Linked DNA regions of Homo sapiens: region 2 is linked to region 1. Evidence: fine-mapped expression QTL. Tissue or cell type: thyroid. Region 1 holds a variant in brackets; the other region holds the start of a gene. All regions are shown on one strand. Distances are between the middles of the regions.

Region 1 (8,105 bases):
ATCTGGGAGGCGGAGGTTGCAGCGAGCCGAGATTGTGCCACTGCACTCCAGCCTGGGCAACAAGAGCGAAAATCCGTCTCAAAAAAAAAAAAAAAAAAAAAAGTTGGCTAGTATCGTTCATTTATCATTCCATATGAATTTTAGAGTCATTTTGTCCAATCCTGAAAATGTAATAGTCAGTAAATTATATAACCATTTAAAAAACAAATTTAGATTCCTATCAAATACCTTACACTAAAGTAATTTTTAGATAAAATGTATTAAAAAGAAATGATAAAGCATTAGAAGAAATTTGACTTAGGTAAGACTTTATAGTATGATATCAAAGATAGAAACGCTGAACAAAAAATTGATAGAATTAAGCAATTCTAATTAACTGTTTATAAAACAATTGTACTTCCATAAAAAATACTGGGCAAAAATTAAGGTAAATTGAGTACACATACGCAACTGTAACATAATAGCAAAGGGCTTATATTTCATACTTAAGTGTATGGAAAGCTCTTTCAGAATAGTAAAATATAAACATCCGGCCAGGTGCGATGGTTCACGCCTGTAATCCTAGCACTTTGGGAGGCCAAGGTGGGCAGATCACTTGAGGTCTGGAGTTCAAGACCAACATGGCCAACATGGTGAAACCCTGTCTCTACTGAAAATACAAAAATTAGCTGAGCGTGGTGGTGAGCACCTGTAATCCCAGCTACTCAGGAGGCTGAGGCAGGAGAACTGCTTGAAGGGAGGCAGAGGTTGCAGTCAGCCGAGATCAGGCCACTGTACTCCAGGCTGGGCAACCGAGGCTCCATCTCAAAAAAGAAAATAAATTAAGATTTAAAAAAAAAAAAAAAAAATCCTAAAACAAAGGTGAATAAAGGACACAAATAATTTATGAAAAATGAAGATGGCCATAAACAGATGAAAAAAGTCCTCAACCTCACTCATATTAAAACAATGTATATTAAAACAATGGTATCATTTTTTTTCACCTATAAGATTGGCAAAGACAAGCCTAAAAGTGGGGAAAGTCAAAAGAAATAATAGCGCTCAATGTGGGGAAAGTATGAGGAAATGGATATTCTCACATACTGCTAGAGAAAGTCTATCAATCCATCATTGGAGAAAACTTTGGCAATATATATTAAAATATTTGAAGGTACTCTGATACAGTAAATCCAATTCTAGGGCCATTTCCTAAGAAAATAAATACTCCTAAATGTTTATATAAGGATGTTAATCTAAGCACTATTTACAAAAGTGAAAAGTAAAAAACTAAATGTTCTACAATAAGGGACTGGTTACAAATGTCATTATACATTTAACGATAGGGGGGAATTCTACACAATCATTATGACTACAAATCTGTTGACATGTCATATTTAAAAAGGAAAAATTTTAAAGCTGTGACGTGCTTAGCATAGTACCTGTCACTTAGTAAGCATTCTATATATTTTAAAGTTATTGTTTCATGGAAAATTTCAAGCATACACAAATATAGAGAGAGTAAGATGATGAACCCCTATCACACAGCTTCAAAAATTATCAACACTTTGCTACTCTCAGGACTTTTTAAAGTTTGCAACTACCCCTCCTTTCCCATTCACAGTGCATATAGGTTTTTCCTATCAAAAGTACATGAATGTACTGCACACTGTATGTAAGCATACACAAAGTCAGAAGAAATTTACACCAAAATTTTATTCATCGTAAATCTCTTAACGGTAGAATTATGGGTGATTTATTTATTTCTCATTTTATCCGCATTTTCTCATTTTTCTAAAATAAGCATGTATTATGTAATTTTAATAGCTGATTAAAAGAAATGAATTCAAGCAAACATATGTCAAAGAAGGAGAAGTTGTTTCCGAATTATACTTTTAGATGTTAAAAACATATAAGAAAAAAATTATACAGAGATTTTTTTTTAATGGAGGGTAGGTTAATATCCACTTACTCAGCCTCCCAGGTTTTCTACTGTCATTGTTCAATGGTGACCCACCTTTCAACCAAATGCAATACATCAACCTTGACTGGATTCTGACTCAAACATTCAATTGTAAAAAGATAGTTTTCTGGACAACTGGAGAAATGTGAACAGACTGGATATTAAATTATATTAAGAAGTTATTATTCTATTAATGTGATACTGATATATTGTTATTTTTTAAGTCCTTACCTGTTGGGAAATAAGATGATATCTATGATTTGCTCTGTAATATTCCACCCAAAAATAAGAAGTAGGGAATGGTATAGAGTTTCAGTTTGACAAGATAAAAAAGTTCTAGAGATCTGTTGCACAACAGTGTACATATAGTTAACATTACTATACTATACATTTAAAAATGGTTAAGGTGGAACATTTTATGTGTATTTTACCATAATTAAAATAAAGATTGACAAGATGATGACAACTATTAATGCTACTTAATGGATATAGATAAGTTTATTTAGATGTTTAAAAAAATGATGATCATACAGCACTGGTATATACTGAATCACTGAAAGATTTAATTTTATTTAGTTTGCTAAGGGAGAAGGATAAATACATTTATATGTAACATTTTTATTAAACAATCAGACAGTTTTAGGTTAAACAAAACTATCAGAAGAATTAATTCAAACACCCTTAGTAGGAAAAACAAATGTTGGCTGTTGAAAGGCTTCTTACCCTAGCCCTAGCTGAATTACAGTAAGTAAAAATCCCATTTTTACTAATAATGAAGTTTTAATTACATAGAGTCAATAATCACAACAGTAATATGAAATAGGATAACAGTAATTTGAAGAGAGAATCTATAATCAATAATACTCCATGGATAAATAATTGAGAACTGTAAAAATTAAGACTCAATTTGCTTTTTTGTCAATCTGAAGGCTACAACTAGAATATAACAATATCTTGGTCAAGTGTGGTGGCTCACACCTGTAATCCCAGCACTTTAGGAGGCCAAGGTGGAAGGATTGCTGGAGCCCAGGAATTCAAGATCAGCCTGAGCAATGCAGCAAGACCTCATCTCAAGAAAACCAAAAAAAATTTTTTGTTGTTAAAAAAATATATATATACATATATATATATATATATATACACACACACACAATTTCTTATTAGGTCTCTATGGTGCTTTGGCATTCAAGTCAAAAAAACTGGTCCAGACATCTCAGGATTTCACTGGTCTGTCTGGCTGCACAGCTTGCTGTGGCCTAGAAAATAAATTTCTTCCTTGCAATTGTTGTGGACTTTTCCTACCATTTTGAATGAAGTCACTCACAGCAGAGCCACAGCCACTGTCGGTAGTTTATCAGACTGCTGATATTTCAGGGAGACGAACAAAAAGTTAATGCATTATTGAGACTTAAAATAGCAAATAAATGCAGATTATTTTTAAAAACCCAAAAAGCCAAAAAAAAAAAAAAAAAAAACCCTCCCTTCTAGCTATTTCAACTTACCCAGGCTGTTCCCTCATTCTATAAAACTAAGATAACTACCAACCTTGACAGATTATCATAATATTAAACAGAGAACACATACAAGAAGCACTGGGTCAATGTCTAGCACATAACAGATGATCACAAATTTTTTTAGTTTCCTTTATGTTCTTGATTCTAACTGAAAAAGGAATGAGCTGAATATGTTCTTACAAGACATATTCCTAAAGTAGGTGTCTGTTTTTTGGTTTTGCTTAAGCCATTACAAGAAAAGTTTCTATCAATGTTCTAAAATAAGTGTTTTTGTTACCACAAAGACACCACTTTTAGTTGGTGTGCACACCATTGCCATGTGACTCTCTCCGTATCTGTCCGCATAGGCAGACTAACTGAAGCTCCCTAGCTGAGACACTTCGGCCAAGATACCCCAGTGACCATAGGGATGGAGCAAGGCACAGACTATAGTAGAGCTGAGAGACCCAACAAGAGACAGAAAGACATGGAAAAGGAGACAGAGGGAGGAATGGGACTGTGGTAGGGAAGAAAGAGAGGGGAGGAAGAGAGGGCGACAAAGCTAGGGACCAAGATGAGGAGAGTGAACATGGATGCAAGCATAGAGTGAGCCTGAGTAAGCAAGACAATGACAGAGAGTGGGTGAGCAAGTCAGAAACAAGCAAGGAGGCAAAGCAGCAAGCGGGCACAAGGACATGAGCCTGGACAGGAGAGTGAATGCACGCATGTGTGAGGGCAGGCGGGAAGAAGGAGCTGAGTCTAGATGCTGAGGAGAGGCTTCCTAAACAAGAGAGCAGGGTTCGTGGAGAGAAGCTGAAAGAGGCTAAATGGTACTAGGACACTGCATTAAGGTAGTTCAAACT[T/C]GATCAAAACCTATCTGCTTCTCATTATTTTAAAAAGTCTTAGGCCTACCTGAATTATCTCTGATTGTTCAGCCAGAGCCTTCCTTTGTGCCTCCAGTGAAGATACCTGTTGCTGATAAATCAAGCGTTGCTTCTCCCAGTCCAGCGATTTCTGACGGAATTCCTGAGGAGGCAATTAGAGTACTTAATTTCTGAGTGCTTCTCCTCACTGTCACTACTTCCCAGACTCCCTTTAACTTTAATTTCTCCCCATGTCCCTGGGTACGCTTGCACCTTTCTCCACAGCGGGAGCCCCATTACTCACTCAGCTAACAGAGCTGGAGAGTAATACTAACTTCCTCACATACTGTGCCTCTGGATATCTGTCTTTCTAAATTTAACACCCTGATGGTGAGGAGTATGACACGCAGATGTTAAGCACTGGATTCAGATGTTTTTCACTGATTTGCTGCCACCTAAGGGTTGTTATAATTTTCTAGTGAATTTTCAGAAAACTGATGCTAAGATAACTAAAATTTTAAAGTATGATTACAGATATCCCTCGCTATCCAAATTCTTGATATCCAGACCCAGGAATTGAACAGATTAAATTTTCAGATAAGTCCCTTGGTAACCCAAATCTTACTTCCCAGTATCTAAAACTAAGGAACCAAGTAGATTCAGATAACACAATATCCTTTGATATCCAAATTTGTATTATCTCAACAGAGGAACTGCAAAAGTTTGAATAACAAAGAAAATCTGTACCAAATTTTAACAAATATTTGTAACCCAAAGCCAAACAGTTCAAAATTAATGATGGATCAATAGTAACATCAAATTGCATGATCAAGAAAGTGATTTCAATATTTATGAAAATGGGGCAAATCAAAGGGAAAGGAAACTCAATCTTTCTATCACTGTCTTCCAGGACCCTCAACTCCAGAAGTCTCAGGCTCCTTAAGATAAGTGTTGTTAACCAAATTTCTGATATTCATTCATTCATTCAATCATTCTACTATATATGCCAGGTACTGCTTTAGGAGTCAGGGATACAATACTTAACAAAACAAACAAAAACCCTAGTCCTACTCAACTGGGGGCAACAGATGACACATTTCTTGTATGGTATAGCAGATGGTAATACACGTTTTGGAGAAAACAGAGCATGAAGTCTTCACAGTTGGGGTTGTAATTTTTAAAAGGGATGGCCAGACTGAGTGAAAAACATTTAAGTAAACACCTAGGGAGATGAGGGTGAAGTTACAATATTCTGGGTGGAAAGAATAGCCTTGAAATAAGAGCATCCTGGTGTGTTTAAGGGTGAGAAAGGAAATTGGTGTGGCTGGAATAAAGTGAATGAAAGGGAAAGTAGGAGAAGACAAGGTAAGAGAGATAACTGGGAATGAGACCACGTAGGCCATTAGGATAACAGATTTTTAAGAGAAGCTGCTGGAAGGTTTTTGTATAGGAAGTGATATAATTTGACTTACATTACAGCAGAATCATTCTGGCTATCATGCTGAGAAAAGAGAAGTCTAGGATGACTCCGAGGTTTTAGGTTGAGCAAATTGAGTTGTTATCAACTAAAACATGAATCAGTGTTGGGGAGATGAGGAAGAGAAAGACAGGACCTTTAGCTTGGACATGTTAAGTTTGACACATTTTAGACATCATAGTGGAGATAGGAAACAGGCAGTTGAAAGTTATTCTGTCATGAAGAGGCGAGGTCTTGGCTAGATATATAAATTTAGGAATTGTCAGCATATACACAGTGTTAAAGCTATGAAATTCAATGGGATCAATAGGGGAGTGAGCGTAGATAGGAAAAAAAAAAAGGAAAGGAAAGGTCCAATGACATGACCCTAGGTGGTTAAGGAATAATGGAGACTGAGGAGTGATGAACAAGGAAAAAATGAGAGAAATGTGGTTTTTCTCAAGCCAAGTCAAGAAAGTGGTTAAGGAGTTGGGAGAGACCAGCTCTCCTACAAAGCTGTAGGTAGGATGAGGAAGATAAGGACCAGCCCACAGGCTTTGGGAATGTGGAAGTCACTGGTGACCTCTATGTGAACAGCTTCTGCAGTGTGAGGGGACAAAAGCCTTATTGAGTGGGTACAAGAACAATGAGACAAGAGGAACTGGAGACAAGTATAGATGACTGAAGTAATTTTTTAGTTATAAAATGGAAGAAATAAAATGGGGCAGAGGAGGAAGAGACGGGTCAAGAGAGGATATTTAAGAGGAGGGAAATTTGGATGCTGGTAAAAAATATCCAGTAGAGAAAAAAAATTAAGGGTGCAGAAAAGAGAAGGTGAACTGCTAAGGTAATGCCTTGGGTAGAAAAGGGGGAGGGCATGCGTAGTTCCTCCAGGAAGGAAGGCAGGGTACATGGGCACAGATGCAGATAGGTGGGTGGACACAAGAGTTGGAAGTCTATAAACAGAAAGGAAGATATAACCCAAAGGTGAGGATGTGGGGAAAGGTGTTGAGAGTTTGAGGAGAAAAGCAGAAGTCTGAAATACTCATTGTGGAAAGTAGGAGATGAGAGGAAATACAGTATGATTCCAGGTAGCATTAGGACCCATTTGAGGTTAGTGACCATGAATTTAAAGTGAGAACAGACAGTATGATTAGGTTTTTCTCTAGCCACGTTCAGCGATACATGACAGGTAGAGAGTGGGCAGAAAGGTGGACTTAAGCAGAACTGTGATTCTGCCAAGCAAATATGAGGAAGCAAGAGAGGAGCACAGGAGATGAAGGGGAAAGTAAAAAATGTAATGACAGAATTTAAAAGCTGGCTAAGGACCGATAAGTGAGAACACCAAGTAGATAATGGAGCAGTAAAAAGGTGGCAGAATTTAATCATTTTAAGGGATGGTTAATGATTACTGAGAGTCAAAGGACTAGAGAGAGTTAGCTGAAAAGATAGGGATTGGTAGTCTGATAATTGAATGCTTGAAAATGAGATTCTAGAGGGGTGGCATATATTGGTAATGACAAGAGCTAAGGAATGGCAGTGGGAATAAGTAGATGAGACACAAAGATAATCAAACTATCTATGGAGGAAAGAAAGCCAAGAAACTGTAAGGTCAGAGTATTATAAGCATCATCTCTCCAGATCCTAAGATCCTCAAAGTTATGATAAGAGTAATGTCAGAGAGAATTGACAGTGAGCTGGGTGCTGAAATCAATGAGCCAAGGAAATAACCCAGAGGTCAGACGATGACTATTTTGGTTGTTATGTTCATTGGCTGGCAGTATAGGCTGGTAACATGAAAATCAAAGATGGGGTTTTTGAGGTAGAAAGAAAAGAGAATAGTCAGGAAGTGGCAATGAGAAGCAAGAAGGATATAGGGTTTGGGGGGAAAAGGTATTGCCGAAAAGGGTGGAAGGGAAGCAGTAGCTGCAGTCTTCTGATTCTAAGCTCTTCAAATGTAAAAAAATATTGAGATATAAAGGAATATTAAACACAGAAATTATAATTTTAAGTAATAATAATATACTGGCATTTGTGGGTGACAGGTCACCCAGAGTACAAACTTGTAAGTGATCACACAAAGATGTTGAACAATGTTTCTCAAATCAGAATAAGCTAGGGGAGCTGGATACAATGCAGATCCCTAGGTCCTATGCCATACTGCTGGATCAGCATTTCTGAGAGCCTAAAAGCACCCTGGGAATTCTTATGTCCAGTGAAGAACTAATGGCAAGGACAGACGAAGAGAATGACAGCCTTGTGCTCTTCCTTCATCTACTCTTGGTACTATTAGCTCACCAGCTCCCCTTAAGTTCTCAATATATACAATAATCATGGAGTTATTCAGTCTTAAT
Region 2 (8,105 bases), 51 kb after region 1:
ACTAGGCACCAAGACTCAGCAAAAAAGATACAAACATAAATCCAACGTGTGAAAAAACTGTAAAATTAAGTTTAAATTTTGGAAATTTAAATGTTAAATGTTGGAAACAATGCGAATTTTGCATATTTGTGTTTTTTTTAATATATAATATTTCCTAACTCTGGCCACCATAAATCCTAGAACTAACGACTAACCTAGTAGCAAGAACACCTCTCCCACCTAGGTAAGACTGTGGTCTCCAAATACTATCTCAGACTCAAAAGAACCACGGCTCCTTGAAGACCAGAAATCTATAAATGAGCCAGGAAAATTATTTACCAGAAAGCAAGGAAATTACCAAAGCTATTGGTCATATCAAATGGAATAGGAGCCAACTTTAAGGAGCTCCCACTGGCCAAAGATGAAACAATTTGAGTATTAAAAACACAACTGCCATATGTTGAAACAGTTTAAATATAAAGTCTATAAGTTCATGATTATAGGTTTACAAAAAGGCAAAAACCCTCATGGTTACCTTTGGAGGCTGCTAGGCCACCAACTCATTACTGTGGTCTGAAAATAGAGGCAAAGAATTAAGCATTTTTCTTGCCTTTCCTGTACAAATTGTATTTCAGGGTAGTCAAACAGCTGGAAAGGGAAAGTTCTTCATAAAAGACTCTCAGTTGATAAATATTGAAGAAATAATAGAATTAGATAATCACCACGTTGCAACCTCTAATGCAATAACGGATACAGGCAATATAACCCCACAAAAGGACTTCACCACTAAGTGAAAGAGTCTTGGGGAATTTCACTATGGGTGGATGGAGCTAACTACACCTAAACCCAATATAATGTTTAATGTTAACATCATAAAAAAAGAAAACAACTCAGACACTGCTTCCCTGATAATTAATGAAATAGGAAGTATACTGCATTACCTATGAAATTATCTGTCCAACCCCCCCAACTATCCCACCAAAAAACAAAACAAAAACAAATATAAGGGTGAAATCTCATCAGGCTTCTAGAGCAGTGCTGTTCAATACAACTTTCTGCAATTATGAAAATATTTTATAACTGCACTGTTCAAAAAGCAGCCACCAGGCAATCTGTAGCTACCGAGCACTTGAAATGTGGCTAATGCAAGTTAGGAACTGAATTTTTTTTTTTTTTTTTTTTTTGAGACAGTCTCGCTCCGTCACCCAGGCTGGAGTGCAGTGGCGTGATCTCGGCTCACTGCAACCTCCACCTCCCGGGTTCAAGCGATTCTCCTTCTCCTGCCTCAGCTTCCTTAGTAGCTGAGATTACAGGCGCATGCCACCACGCCCGGCTAATTTTTCATTTTTAGTAGAGACGGGGTTTCACCATGTTGGTCAGGCTGGTCTCGAACTCCTGACCTCGTGATCCACCCACCTCAGCCTCCCAAAGTGCTGGGATTACAGGCGTGAGCCACCGCGCCCAGCCTAGGAACTGAATTTTTAATTTTATTTCACTTTAATTAACTAGCCACTGCTGGCTGGTGGCTACAATACCGGACAGTGCAATTCTACATCTAACTACTGGTTTAGAGCAGTGGTCCCCAACCTTTTTGGCACCAGGGACCTGTTTCATGGAAGACAATTTCTCAACACCGACAGGGCGGAAATAACACATTTTGTAAATATCTTTTTGTTAAAATTCATATGAAATGTTTTGGGGGAGGAATGGCCAAACCACTTTTTTTTGTTTTTTGAGACCGAGTCTTGCACTCTTGCCTGGTCTGGAGAGCAATGGTGTGATCTCGGCTCACTGCAACCTCCGCCTCCCGGATTCACGTGATTCTCCTGCCTCAGCCTCCCGAGTAGCTGGGATTACAGGCGCACACCACCACACTCGGCTAATTTTATTGCATTTTCAGTAGAGACGGGGTTTCACTATGTTGGCCACACTGGTCTCAAACTCCTGACCTCATGCCCACCTCGGCCTCCCAAAGTGCTGGGATTACAGGCGTGAGTCACCGCGCCCGGCCAACCACTTCTTCAGTAATATGAATAATACACATGGACAGGGTTAGGGGCATGGTTTCAGGATGAAACTATTCCACCTCAGATCATCAGGCATTAGTCAGATTCTTATAAGTGTGCAACCTAGATTCCTTGCATGCGCAGTTTACAATAGGGTTCGTGCCCCTAGGAGAATCTAACCTCACGGCTGATCTGACAGGAGGCAGAGCTCAGGTGGTAGGTAATGCTCACTAGCCTGTCACTCACCTCCTGCTCTGTAGCCTGGTTCCTAACAGGCCACGGACTGGTACTGCTCTGCGGCCCCGGGTTTGGGGGCCCCTGGTTTAGAGGACACAAAGGCAACAGAGATACATGTTAAAGGATACTGTGCGATGCAATCTGCTAAATTTAGAACTGTAAGGAAAAATAGGGGCTAATCCCATAGCTATAACTATGAGGGAACAAATATAGATTAAAAGATGTCAAATGTGCATCACCCAAACACAATAGGCAGATCCCTGTGGGATTTTGGTTCAAACAAGCTAATTGTAAAAAGACATTTAAGAGACAGTTGAAGAAATCGTTATCTGACTGGATATTGACATTAGAGAATTTTTATTAATTTGTGTATGTGTAATGACAGTACTGTGGCTCTGTAAAACTGAAAAACCTAGCTCCTGATGGGGGCGGGGAGGCGGACTAAAATAACATAAAGATCGGAGATTCAGTTCCTGAAACCTTCTGTCAATGTTGGCTTTAGCTGAATTTCAAGTCAAGTTGACATTTTTTGAAAGCAGGAAGCAATGACAGAGTGGACTACTGATGCTGTCACCATCTGCCAGCACAACATAAATTAGAACAGAAAGGACTAAGCAAAGGTCTTCCACCATTTTAACGAGAGGAAATGGCATCAGTACAATCAACATACACAATTTTTACAAACAACTTTTAGATTTGCATCTACATACATTTTAAAAGGCAGTGTGCCTGTTTATAAATCTCTACTCTAATTTAGTTTCAGAGCTTTTTACTACCCTGATCACTGATAATGCCACAGTCAAAAAGCAAACTCAAAATAAAAATCAATCTAAAAATGGTACTGCATGCCAAATAAGAAAATATATACACTTTATCATTAAGCTACAGCTAACAGAAATCTAATCAACGATCCTTATGATTTCCTCGTATCTAAAAAATAAATGCAAGCACTTGAGGAACTGTATAAATACAGGGCATCTACCCTACAATACTGCTTTATTAAAATAATAAATTCTTTTAATAAGTTTAACCAGACATAAGGCTCAGGGAAAACTACTCTGTGCATATCAGCGTACGGTGCTGAAACTGTAAAAGACGACCTGTCTCTGACATCATACTCATCTTTACTCTCCTGATGTCGTAAGGGACGTAAGAAAAACCACATTATAAGCCTAAATGTACTGTCTTCAAGTATCTCCATGATTAAAGTGTTCCTAAGAAACCGTCCTTATTTCTTTCTATCCCTCATTTGTGTGCATGGAGCCGTTAGTTCAGGGTTCTCCAATTTCAGTCCACGATTTATGCCACATTTCCGTACCTCTTGTACTAACATAACCGTTTAAACCAACTCACTATTTTAAAAGCTGCCAACCTTAACATGCCACACTAAATGAGCGGGTCCCCTTGTGCCGTGAATGAAGTAGTCCCAACAGCGCTAGCTAGACAGCAGCCCTGGCAGGGAGGCCGCACTGGGGTCTCTCCGCTGAAAAGGAAGGTGGGTCCGCCGGGGAAGGTGAGTACTGGGCGCAGCTCGCTCGCCCACCTGGCCACTCTCCGAAGCGCCCCCAGCCACCTGGACTCCGAGGAAGGGCTGACCACCTGGCGGGGCCGAACCCCACGCCGGGCTGCGCCACGCCAGACTCCGCCAGTGTGCAGGGCATAGCGGGCCAGGCCGAGGGACTGGGCTTCGGGGCGGACCCAAGCCGGCGGGGACGCGCCTGGTGGTTCGCAGGCCGTTGCGCAAACCGGCCGCAAGCCATGAGGCCGCGAAGCCAGAATCACCAAGGCAGCCTGGGCCGCCTCCAGACCAGGACACGGCAGCCCCTTGCCCCTCCAACTTGCGCACCGGCGGTTACAGGGTTGCCGCAAGCACGCCCCTGAGCCTTCCCGCCGTTACCTCGGGCCGGCGCTGCGCACGCGCGCCACCGCTAAGCTTACGTCCAGCCTCTGTAGTCGGCGCGTTTGTTCCGCCCACTGCCCCCACACTTTTAATAATTGAAACAATGCCTTCTCCAGACTTCCCCTGCACGCGAGCAAATGAACTCACCCACATCCGGGAATCCGAGGAAAGCGAGTGCAGACACGTGATGCGGGGGAGGGGGGGGGGGCGTGGCAGGAGCAAGCGTCTGCCGCGGTGGCCGGGTGCCGGTAAGGGTTTCCAGCGCCCCCGGCCTAGGTTTTGGAGGCGCGGGAATGCGTTCGTTGCTCAGTGTCGGACTTCCCCCTATTCCCATCGGCCGAGGCTGTCACTTTACGCTCATAACCGTTTTTCTTTACTGCACTCGTGTCGGGAGGAAAGGGACTTGCGTGGCACCCCCAGACCTCCCCGTCTCCGCTTCCACGTTTGGTACATCCTGCCTGAGGCAGGAAGCCGCAGCTGAGGGACGGCCTGTCGTACGGTGCGGATGGTGGTGGCCTGCGAGGCTCATTTCTAGCAAGGAACAAGGCTTTCCCGCTTTGATTTTATAAATATTATGTTTACAAAGCTGTAATATATAGAAATTGATAAGACGTGTCCCTGTCCCTGGAAACGCAGGCACCGCGTGTTTGGAAAGACATTCATCTGGGCTGTTTGACAGACTCCCCAGTTGGTGCCATGCTCTGTGCTTAGGGAACTGTGAGACCCCTGGAGGGGTGGGTACCGGGACCGCACTCAGCCTGGGGTTTGGAGGCGGCCTCCTATAGGAAGCGACCTGGGACCTAAGATTTTTAGACTGACTGTGGGTTCACTGGAATAAAAAGGAAGAAACAAAGAGCATTGCAGGCATCGGGACTGTCACGTGAGTAAGAAAAGTTTGTTCAGGAAACAGTGGTCGTACTGGGTGACGAGTACTTGGGACGGTGGCTTTAATACACAAGATAATCAGTGTGCCCTGGGCATTGATTATCTTGATGCTTCCCATCCTTCCAGCCCCTTATGAGGGAAGGCACCTTCGCGCCTAATCCCGGAAATGGGATGTTGACCTTCAAGAGCTGACGCCTGCGTTTATCTTGAAAGGAAGAGTGGCATTAGTGATGTGGAAAAGGGGGTTTTAACTGTCAAGGCTGGAAAATGTGACAGGGTTGGAGGTGTTTGGAGAAGGGACAGGTGAAAAAGATTGAGACCAAATGTGGAAAGATCTACTAAGGAATCATGGGTACAAAATGTACACGTAACAGTTGGAGGCAATAATACCTGAGCAATTGACCACAAAGCTGACCTAGCTTGTTTAGTAGATTAAGTTAGGACAAGAAGCAAGAGTTCAAGGATAGAAGGCCTACTGAAGCTCGAGTGATTTGAGAAAACTTTACAAAGGTGGAAAATCTACGTGGGCCTCCGAAAGTCAGGTTTGGATCAGCTGAGGAAAGTGAGAAGGGTATCCCAGGAGACAGAGCAGCAAGGACAAAGGAGTAGCAGCAGGAAAGTGGGGAGCACTTGTAAGACAGGGACTTCAAAAGTATAACCAAAACTTCGTCTTGCTTTGAGTTATCCACTGGGTAGTACTCGGTTAATTATTGAGTACTGGATTAATTAAGCCCTCACCTGGCTCACCGGTGACAGAAGTAGCAGGGCGCATTTTGCTTAACTTTTGCCGAGATCCTTGTCATGGGGGTGTAAACCCTTTCCCACACCAATCTGTGTATAATTTTTGCCAAGGTGTTAGGGATATCTTGCAGTTATCCTATGGGGGACAGCTGTGAGCCTTTTTGGTTTTTTTTGTTTTTTTTTTTCCGAGACGGAATCTTGCTCTGTCGCCCAGGCTGGAGTGCAGTGGCGCGTGGCGCTATCTCGGCTCACTGCAAGCTCCGCCTCCCAGGTTCACGCCATTCTCCTGCCTCAGCCTCCCGAGTAGCTGGGACTACAGGCGCCTGCCACCATGCTCGGCTAATTTTTTGTATTTTTAGTAGAGACGAGGTTTCACCCTGTTAGCCAGGATGGTGTTGATCTCCTGACCTCGTGATCCGCCCACCTCGGTCTCCCAAAGTGCTGGATTACAGGCGCGAGCCACCGCGCCCGGCCCTGTGAGCCATTTTTACAAAAACTTCCACCTGCCTTGGCCCAAACCTCAGCGTTCTTAGGCACAGGAGCTCATGAACATACTGAGATAACACTAAACTGGACTATGCGAAGGGACCAACTACAGACCTGACACAAATCCTCAAGGCAAGACGATGTCTGAAGTTGAGCTTGTAAAGGAAATGGCTTCCTTCCTTAAAATATCACCCAGGCTGAGCTCTGAAAAAAGCACCTCCAGATGGTGGGTTCCACCCCGCTCCACCACCCCAAAATTGCTTATTGTGTGAGTCTCCATAGTCTCAGAAACTGAGAGTACCTTTGATGCCAGTGGCTTCCGGGCTTTTTGGATTGTCACTTGGTAGCAGGGAGCACCCATAGGATGATGCCTATGATGAGTCAGGGCCCAACCTTGGAAACAGGGAAATCCAGAAGTATCCTACAAGCTAGCCAGCCTTTTGGATTAGATTATAGCAGTTTCAGAGAAAAATGGGGAATCAGCCATGGTCAAGGAGCTAAATAAGCATCGTGACCATTTGGGCCAGAAATTGAAGGGAGTGTAGCGTTAAGAATTAGAGGAAGGAACCTCCGAGGAAGGAGCTACCCCAAAGGGAAGCAGAAACTGGAGAAACTTTAGCAGTATGAGGTTCTACCACTGGTGTTCACCTAGAAGTGCTTTATTCAGATCTCAGCCTGGGTACTATTTTAGGGAAGGAAGCCGTTTCCTTTACAGTATGTTCGTGTGACTCCTGTGCCTAAGAATGCTGAGGTTTGAGCCAGGGGCTAGAAAGGAAACTTAGCTGGCCATTATGAATCAGGGACTCATCAAAGGCATCACAAACAGGAAAAGGTGAATGTTCAAGTTAGAAGAGAAGAGCTACATTGAGATGCAACATATTAATATTTGAGGGCCTCGTTTAACGTGTTGCTCTCCTGTCACACTCTATGACACTGGTCTGTCAGCTGGGCTATGCCTGTCCAGTATACACTATAAAATATGTATCAGTTGGGGTTGGAGAGAGGAACTGTGATCAAAGTAGTCACCCGGCCCATATGAGAAAATGAACCTTTTCCCAAAAGGTGGCCCCAGACTAAAAAGCCTGGAGAATCCTAATAGTGGATTATACCATCTCTTCAGTCTTCGTGTTTAAGAAATAACCTCTTTGGCTTACAGATTTGACAAGATCAAAGCTGCAGGAAAATGGACAGTGAGGTTCAGAGAGATGGAAGGATCTTGGATTTGATTGATGATGCTTGGCGAGAAGACAAGCTGCCTTATGAGGATGTCGCAATACCACTGGTAGGTTATGATTTGAGCTGAGGATGGGTTAAAGGTATTGATCTGGCAGTAACTAGTGGAGGAGGGATATCAATGGAAGATAAACTAGTGTGGCAAAGAAATCAAAGCTGTGGAATTCTCTAACTCTAGAAGCTTCTGGAGAGCATCCAGTTGTATGTTTTATTTGAAGAAAAATGTGGTTCAGGGAGCTAACATGGCCAGGTCAGTTAGGAGTCATGCCAGGACTAGAGCCCCGATTTTCTGAGCCATGTTCTGTCCACCACACGAAAACCAGAGAAACCAAATAATGAGAGTTTAATGCGCAAGATGGGGAAGAACAAGAAGCAGCAGCATATGAGCTCTGTTTCTTACTTCCCTGCCTGTGGCTCATCAGTCTTTCAGCATTTTTAGAAACTTACATTCTTGGAGCATACACCTATCTTAGGTTCCCTGGAAAATATTCAGAAGATACCTGGGTATTCTTTTGCGTTTAGGCCAGTGGCCTTCTGGAATACTCTTTTCTTCCCCATCTTTGGAAAACTCTGCTGCAGGGAGTTTGTTAAACCTCATGTAATAAGTGATCCAAAAGTTTTGCTTATATAAATGTTTG

What was found. PIP is the estimated chance that this variant, and not a neighbour inherited with it, causes the effect.
Region 2: it holds the start of CEP63, and the variant in region 1 is fine-mapped to the expression of CEP63 in thyroid (GTEx, PIP 0.99).

What each region holds. Positions count from the first base shown.
Region 1 is chr3:134,533,508-134,541,612 of GRCh38, reverse strand. It overlaps CEP63 (centrosomal protein 63), which reads right to left. Exons shown (of 15, transcript NM_001353108.3): 6 at 4,345-4,458. Among named protein-coding and RNA genes, the nearest start is that of CEP63, 52 kb to the right of the region's middle. The variant T/C (reference allele first, on the strand shown) is at 4,296.
Region 2 is chr3:134,482,217-134,490,321 of GRCh38, reverse strand. It overlaps CEP63 (centrosomal protein 63), which reads right to left and starts at 4,265. Exons shown (of 15, transcript NM_001353108.3): 1 at 4,120-4,265. It overlaps ANAPC13 (anaphase promoting complex subunit 13), which reads left to right and starts at 4,337. Exons shown (of 3, transcript NM_015391.4): 1 at 4,337-4,370; 2 at 7,391-7,516. The coding sequence starts at 7,418. RefSeq lists enhancers at 3,333-4,151, 4,243-4,352, 4,433-4,532, 4,563-4,682.